Regions from separate parts of the Homo sapiens genome. Here region 1 is linked to region 2. A link means that fine-mapping ties the variant in region 2 to the plasma level of a protein whose gene starts in the linked region. Region 2 holds a variant in brackets. A gene starts in the other region. All regions are shown on their reverse strands.

Region 1 (2,908 bases), not on the chromosome of region 2:
AGCTTTGGAATCAGTGAGGCCTGGATCCAAACCCCATCTCTGCTTTCCACCAGCTGTGCGACCTTGGGCAAATGTCCTAGTCTCTCTGAACCTCACTTTCTTCTTCTGTAAAAGGAAAATAATGGTACTACTTTGCAGGAATGCTGAGGTTTACAAATAGCATATGCCAAGTATCTGGCACATGTTAGGTGCAAAATAAATGGTTTTGCTTACACTTAGATAAAATGACTTTTGTTCTATGAAATGGAGCTAATGATTAGGTTTTATGGAAAGGCTTTATTTATTTATTTTATGATTAGGTTATACAAAAATGCTTTATTTCACCTGGAAGCTTACCTGGGTGTCATTTTATGGTTGTCTCATCTGACCATTTTTAAACCATGGTTGGATCTTGTGGAAATGTTTAGAGCTCGTTATGAAGCCAATGTAAACAAAGGTACCTATCAGCTGTTGCAGACACTATCCCATCCACAGGGGCACCCCTGACATAGCTGTAGCCCAACTTCACCCTGAAGTCTTGGAAAGGTTACATGATTCAGACAGATGTAGTAGGCATGAGATTACAGGCCAAGAGGAAGAGGCCGGGGCTGTAGGCAGTATACTTGACAGGCTCATACACTGCAAGCCTTGTTCCGGGCCCCTTACAAAGCACCTCTTTAGGATGAAAACAAGATGGTCTTTGTAAATAAAAGTTCATGCATTTGGGTAATGAAGTCATTTTCCAGCGCTGCAGTGAAAGATATTCTTCTCCCAAGCCCTCTGGGTGAGGACTGGAGGGAGGAAGAGGGGTGGCCAGTGAATCTGAAGAGAAGATATTAGCACAAAGAGTGCAACAGTCTATCCCCCAGAAAAAACCCGAGAAACCTTGCTCAAGAAAGTGGGCACCCTGACCCTCTGCCTTCAGAGATCATCTACCTTTGGTTCCTGCCCTGGAATCCCTTTTCCACCCACTTTCCTGCAAACTAGCGGGGGCCACATAAAATATCTATGTAAATATAGATAAGACATCCGGTACCTTGACTACATAAATAAGAGTGGTGAGGAAGCGTCACAAAAGCTGAATATTCTTCTGGAGCCCTTGGAGGGGCTCCAAACTGAGAGGGGAGGGAAGACCGCAGGGAAAGGCGGACCTCAGTGTCTGAAAAGCCAGCTTAGAGTGGGAGGGCCTGGGAGTAGAAGGTAAAAAGGGAGTGGTGAGAATGAATGTGAGAAGGAAGCCAGGACAGCGCAGTCCCCAGTCCCGAACGGCCAGGGAGAGGAGGTGGCCTAGCGCTGGCGGGGCTCACCCCAATCCGTCTGCCTTTTGATGCCGTACTGTAAGCTCCGTCCATCTGTAGGTTCTTGAGCCAGAACCTCTGCGGGAAGGAGAAAAAGTGAAAGAGGGAGAGGGAGAGGGAGAGAGAGGGGGAGAAGGGGAGAGAGAGAGAGGGAGAGAGAGGCTGGAACTCTCCCTTACTCTCGCACTTTCCCTTTATTTCCTAAGCTGCTGGTTGCGCAGCCACCTCGGGATACTGCACACGGAGAGGAGGGAAAATAAGCGAGGCACCGCCGCACCACGCGGGAGACCTACGGAGACCCACAGCGCCCGAGCCCTGGAAGAGCACTACTGGATGTCAGCGGAGAAATGGCTTTGAGCTCAGCCTGGCGCTCGGTTCTGCCTCTGTGGCTCCTCTGGAGCGCTGCCTGCTCCCGCGCCGCGTCCGGGGACGACAACGCTTTTCCTTTTGACATTGAAGGGAGCTCAGCGGTTGGCAGGCAAGACCCGCCTGAGACGAGCGAACCCCGCGTGGCTCTGGGACGCCTGCCGCCTGCGGCCGAGGTACAGTGTCCCTGCCATTGCCACCCTGCTGGGGCACCTGCGCCCCCGCGGGCTGTGCCACACTCGTCCTTCTCTCTCTCTCCGCCTCTTTCCTCTCCCCAGTGCCTTGAGAGTTTCACCTGGGCTAGGTCAGTTCGGAAACTTGAAATAAAGAGTTTTCCTTTGTAAGTTGCATTTGGATGTTGAGAGTTGAAAGTTGAGGCTTCGGAATGTGTCTGCTCAAAGGGGTGAGAGTGCATGTGTTGGTGCTCTGAGTTCATCCGCTAGACTCTCACCGGGGACTGCAGCAGCACATCGGTGACTTCTGCCACTTGCGTGTCCCAGTAGTCATTTTGTCAAGCCACGGCACTTAACGTGTGTGCCCTGTCACTGGCTTCCTGCTCCTCTGTGCTGTTAGGACAGTGGGAACACTACTGCAGGATCTTTTTGTCTCATATTAGACAAGAAGTCTTCTGCAGCAGGGAAGGTGAGGGGGTGAGTGAGAGTGGCTGGTCATGAAAGGAGCTGTTAGACAACTGCTGAGAGGGTATCTTAAGTAGAAACGAGCCATTGTATTCCAGAAACAAGATGTTTCCATTAAAATCAAGCCTCAGGATATGCTATTGATAATATGTTTATTCAAAGAGCTGCTGTTTGAATACCTTACAATAGCTTTTAAGTTGGAAACAAAACCAGAATGTAGAGGTCTGGTAAAGGAGAATGAATCCAGAACAAGTGATTTAAGAACCCCTGAACTGAAACAGACAACAGCATGCCCATTGCATGGGACATGCTAAGAGGGAGGAAAATAAAGTCACCTAAGTTCATGGGAAAGGAAGGAGCAATTGACCTAGCAAAACAAACACCACACTCTATAGCTATGGTTACAGCAACTGTACAACTAAAACAGTTATGTGGATTGACACCATTTCTAACATCACTGATGCATGGATTATTGCTATGAATTCTGTTAATTGTTAGTACAATTATAGTTATTAATTATTGATGATTAAAAATAAGGTGCATGAACATGGTCCTTCTTCAGAGTAAGCCCTACCCACATTGCCCCAAAAAAGAGAGTGGACAGGGTCAGAATATGCCAACCTCTCA
Region 2 (2,908 bases):
AGAATAGTAGTGAACAGGCCCAAATCTCAGGCCTCTTGCCCCTTCTGCCCACACCCCCTTTCACCTCGAACCTCTAGCAGCCATTGTAGGGATGTCTAAATGGGCCCCCTGGGAGACAGCCTTTGCCTCAACTGGAAGCCTCTAGGTGGCATAGGGCTGTCCAGGGAGGGCTGGTGTCTGCCTCCATCTTTGGGGCTGTCTTCTGTGCCCTCACAGGTTTTCTCTTCCTCCCTTTCAGATCTGCTGAATCCCAACCTTCTTGCAGGCATCCACTGCGCAAAAAGGATTGTGTCCGGAGCACGGGGGATGAACAACTGGTGAGGAGGACACGGTGGGACTCAGCGGGCAGAGCCCCACGAAGGAGGACGTGACAGAGAAAAGGGCAGTAGGCAAGGACTCACGGGCACGCCCTTGCAGTGTCTAGAAAGATGTGGGATAGCGGACGGGCTTGGAACTCTGAGATCTGGTTCTTCTATGATATTGTATTAAACAAAACTCTTCTGGTTGCAGTAACAGAAAACAACTTGAGCTAGCTGGGGGAAATTTATTCTGAGAGGCCCAGATGTCTCACTGAGCCCACTCAAGGGCTGCAGCTGGGCCTCAGGAAGAGCATGGAACCAGGGCTGGAAATTGTCAGCACACTGTCCATGGCAGGTTTCAGCTTCTCTTGGTGCATTTGCTTCACTTCTCTCTCCGCAGACTTTCTCTGCTCCACAGTCTAAAGGACAAAGGGTGCTGCAAAGTTAATAAGCTAAAGTCCTAAGCAACCATAGGGACTGGCTAGGCTCAGTCCCAGTCCAAGTTCCTGGGATAGAGAATCTGATTGGTTCCACTTGGACCATGTGTGCCCCCTTGGTCCAATCAACTGTAGGGATGGGAGGAGTTAAGCAATACAATTATGGCTGCCGCTCGGGCCCTGTGGCCATAATTGACAATATTTTTTTATTTAAAAATGTGGACCGGGCATGGTGGCTCACGCCTGTAATCCCAGCACCTTGGGAGGCTGAGGCAGGTGGATCACTTGAGGTCAGGAGTTCGAGACCAGCCTGGTCAACATGGTGAAGCCCCGTCTCTGTTAAAAATACAAAAAATTAGCTGGTCATGGTGGCGCCTGCCTGTAGTCCCAGCTACTCAGGAGGCTGAGGCAGAAGAATCGCTTGAACCTGGGAGGTGGAGGCTGCAGTGAGCCGAGATCGCGCCACTGCACTCCAGCCTGGGCGGCAGAATGAGACTCTGTTTAAAAAAAAAAAAAAATGTGGCGGCTGGGCGCAGTGGCTCACTCCTGTAATCCCAGCCCTTTGGGAGGCTGAGGTGGGTGGGTCACAAAGTCAGGAGTTCGAGACCAGCCTGGCCAATATGGTGAAACTTTGTCTCTACTAAAAAATACAAAAATTAGCCAGGCGTTGTGGTGGGTGCCTGTCCCAGGCTGCTTTTTGTGTTATGTGGGGATGAGGCACTGACCCTGTGGGCCGGGATCTCTCTGGGGACCTTTCCCTTGCTTTCTGTCCATGCTCCTTAAGGCAAGCTGCATGGGAGGCTGAGGCAGGAGAATCGCTTGAACCCGGGAGCCAGAGGTTGCAGTGAGCTGAGATCGCGCCACTGCACTCCAGCCTGGGTGACAGAGAAAGAATCCGTCTCAAAAAAAGAAACAAAAAACGACAACAAAAAAATGTGGCATTCATCAGCTGGGCAGACACCCACATAGCTGTGAGCTCACCAACGGTGGACATTCAGATAGTCACCTTTTCTGAGCTTCAAACTAGATATATAAGTAACACAAATGGCTGCCTCTACAGGCAACTGTGGAAGGAGTCAAATCCC[C/T]TGCATACTCAAAACACCACAGAAAAGAATTGACAGCGATGATTATGCTGATCCTTTCTGGAGGGAGAATCAATGGTTGTACCTGGGACTTTTTTTTTTTTTTTAATAAGTAACTCTCAGCCCTGTAAAACAGTGCTCACCCCTTCAGGGAGATATGAGGATTTTAAAATGTGGAAACGTTGATCCAGGGAAGCAGGCAAACACCAGAGATGAGAGAGTTTTACAGGATTCGTCAGAGGGGACAGTGGAGGACAGACCAGAGGGCTAGCTAGCAATGACGGGGATTCTGGGCGTTGCTCCATATGCGAGACTCACCAAGAACTGGGTCATGTGTGTGGAAGAGTTACTGAGTGTGAGGCAAGAACCATGTCTTTTTTCTCCGCAGGGTAGAATGGAGGTTGCACTGTTCAGGCCGGCCACTCTTCTACTGGCTGACAGGATGCCGCCTGAGATGAAACAGGGTGCGGGTGCACCGTGGAGTCATTCCAAGACTCCTGTCCTCACTCAGGGATTCTTCATTTCTTCTTCCTACTGCCTCCACTTCATGTTATTTTCTTCCCTTCCCATTTACAACTAAAACTGACCAGAGCCCCAGGAATAAATGGTTTTCTTGGCTTCCTCCTTACTCCCATCTGGACCCAGTCCCCTGGTTCCTGTCTGTTATTTGTAAACTGAGGACCACAATAAAGAAATCTTTATATTTATCGAAATATTAAAGCACTCGCTCTGCAAAGACTGTGTCCATTTATTCATTAGTCTACATATATTTGAGTACCTAAGACAGTGGGAGTGTACTAGGTAGTAGAAGGAAGACAAAACACAGCTATTGTTGTTTAGGTGTTCATAATCTAGGTGGAGAAGCAGAGACATCCACAAACATTACAATAGGTAATTAAATGTATAGTAAAATCCATAATTATTGCTTTGAAACAGTATCAGCATCCAAGTAATTCCTCCAAAGAACAATTTTTGAAGTAAAAGAGAAAACTCAGAAGTAGGCAATGGGTGGGGTCTGGTATTGATGTGGAGAAAGTAGTGATGGGATGGAGAAATAGTGGCAGATACCAATAATTTGGGGGTGCTTTGG

Alleles and levels. Alleles are on the strand shown, and positions count from the first base shown. The strength of an association depends on the size of the effect and on how common the allele is.
In carriers of allele T in region 2, the plasma level of the protein whose gene starts at base 1,208 in region 1 tends to be lower than with C alone (strong association).

Evidence for each region. PIP is the chance, under the fine-mapping model, that this variant and not a neighbour inherited with it causes the effect. The UK Biobank Pharma Proteomics Project read protein levels with antibody pairs (Olink). The fine-mapping took linkage between variants from a reference panel, not from the people measured, so its PIPs are less certain.
Region 1: it holds the start of LAMA4, and the variant in region 2 is fine-mapped to the plasma level of the LAMA4 protein (UK Biobank, PIP above 0.99).

The regions. Positions count from the first base shown.
Region 1 is chr6:112,252,867-112,255,774 of GRCh38, reverse strand. It overlaps LAMA4 (laminin subunit alpha 4), which reads left to right and starts at 1,208. Exons shown (of 39, transcript NM_001105206.3): 1 at 1,208-1,316; 2 at 1,484-1,819. The coding sequence starts at 1,625. All of the region lies in intron 2 of LAMA4-AS1 (LAMA4 antisense RNA 1), which reads right to left.
Region 2 is chr17:35,934,164-35,937,071 of GRCh38, reverse strand. LYZL6 (lysozyme like 6) reads left to right here. Exons shown (of 5, transcript NM_020426.4): 4 at 239-317; 5 at 2,207-2,554. The coding sequence ends at 2,276. Among named protein-coding and RNA genes, the nearest start is that of RDM1, 4.8 kb to the right of the region's middle. The variant C/T (reference allele first, on the strand shown) is at 1,822.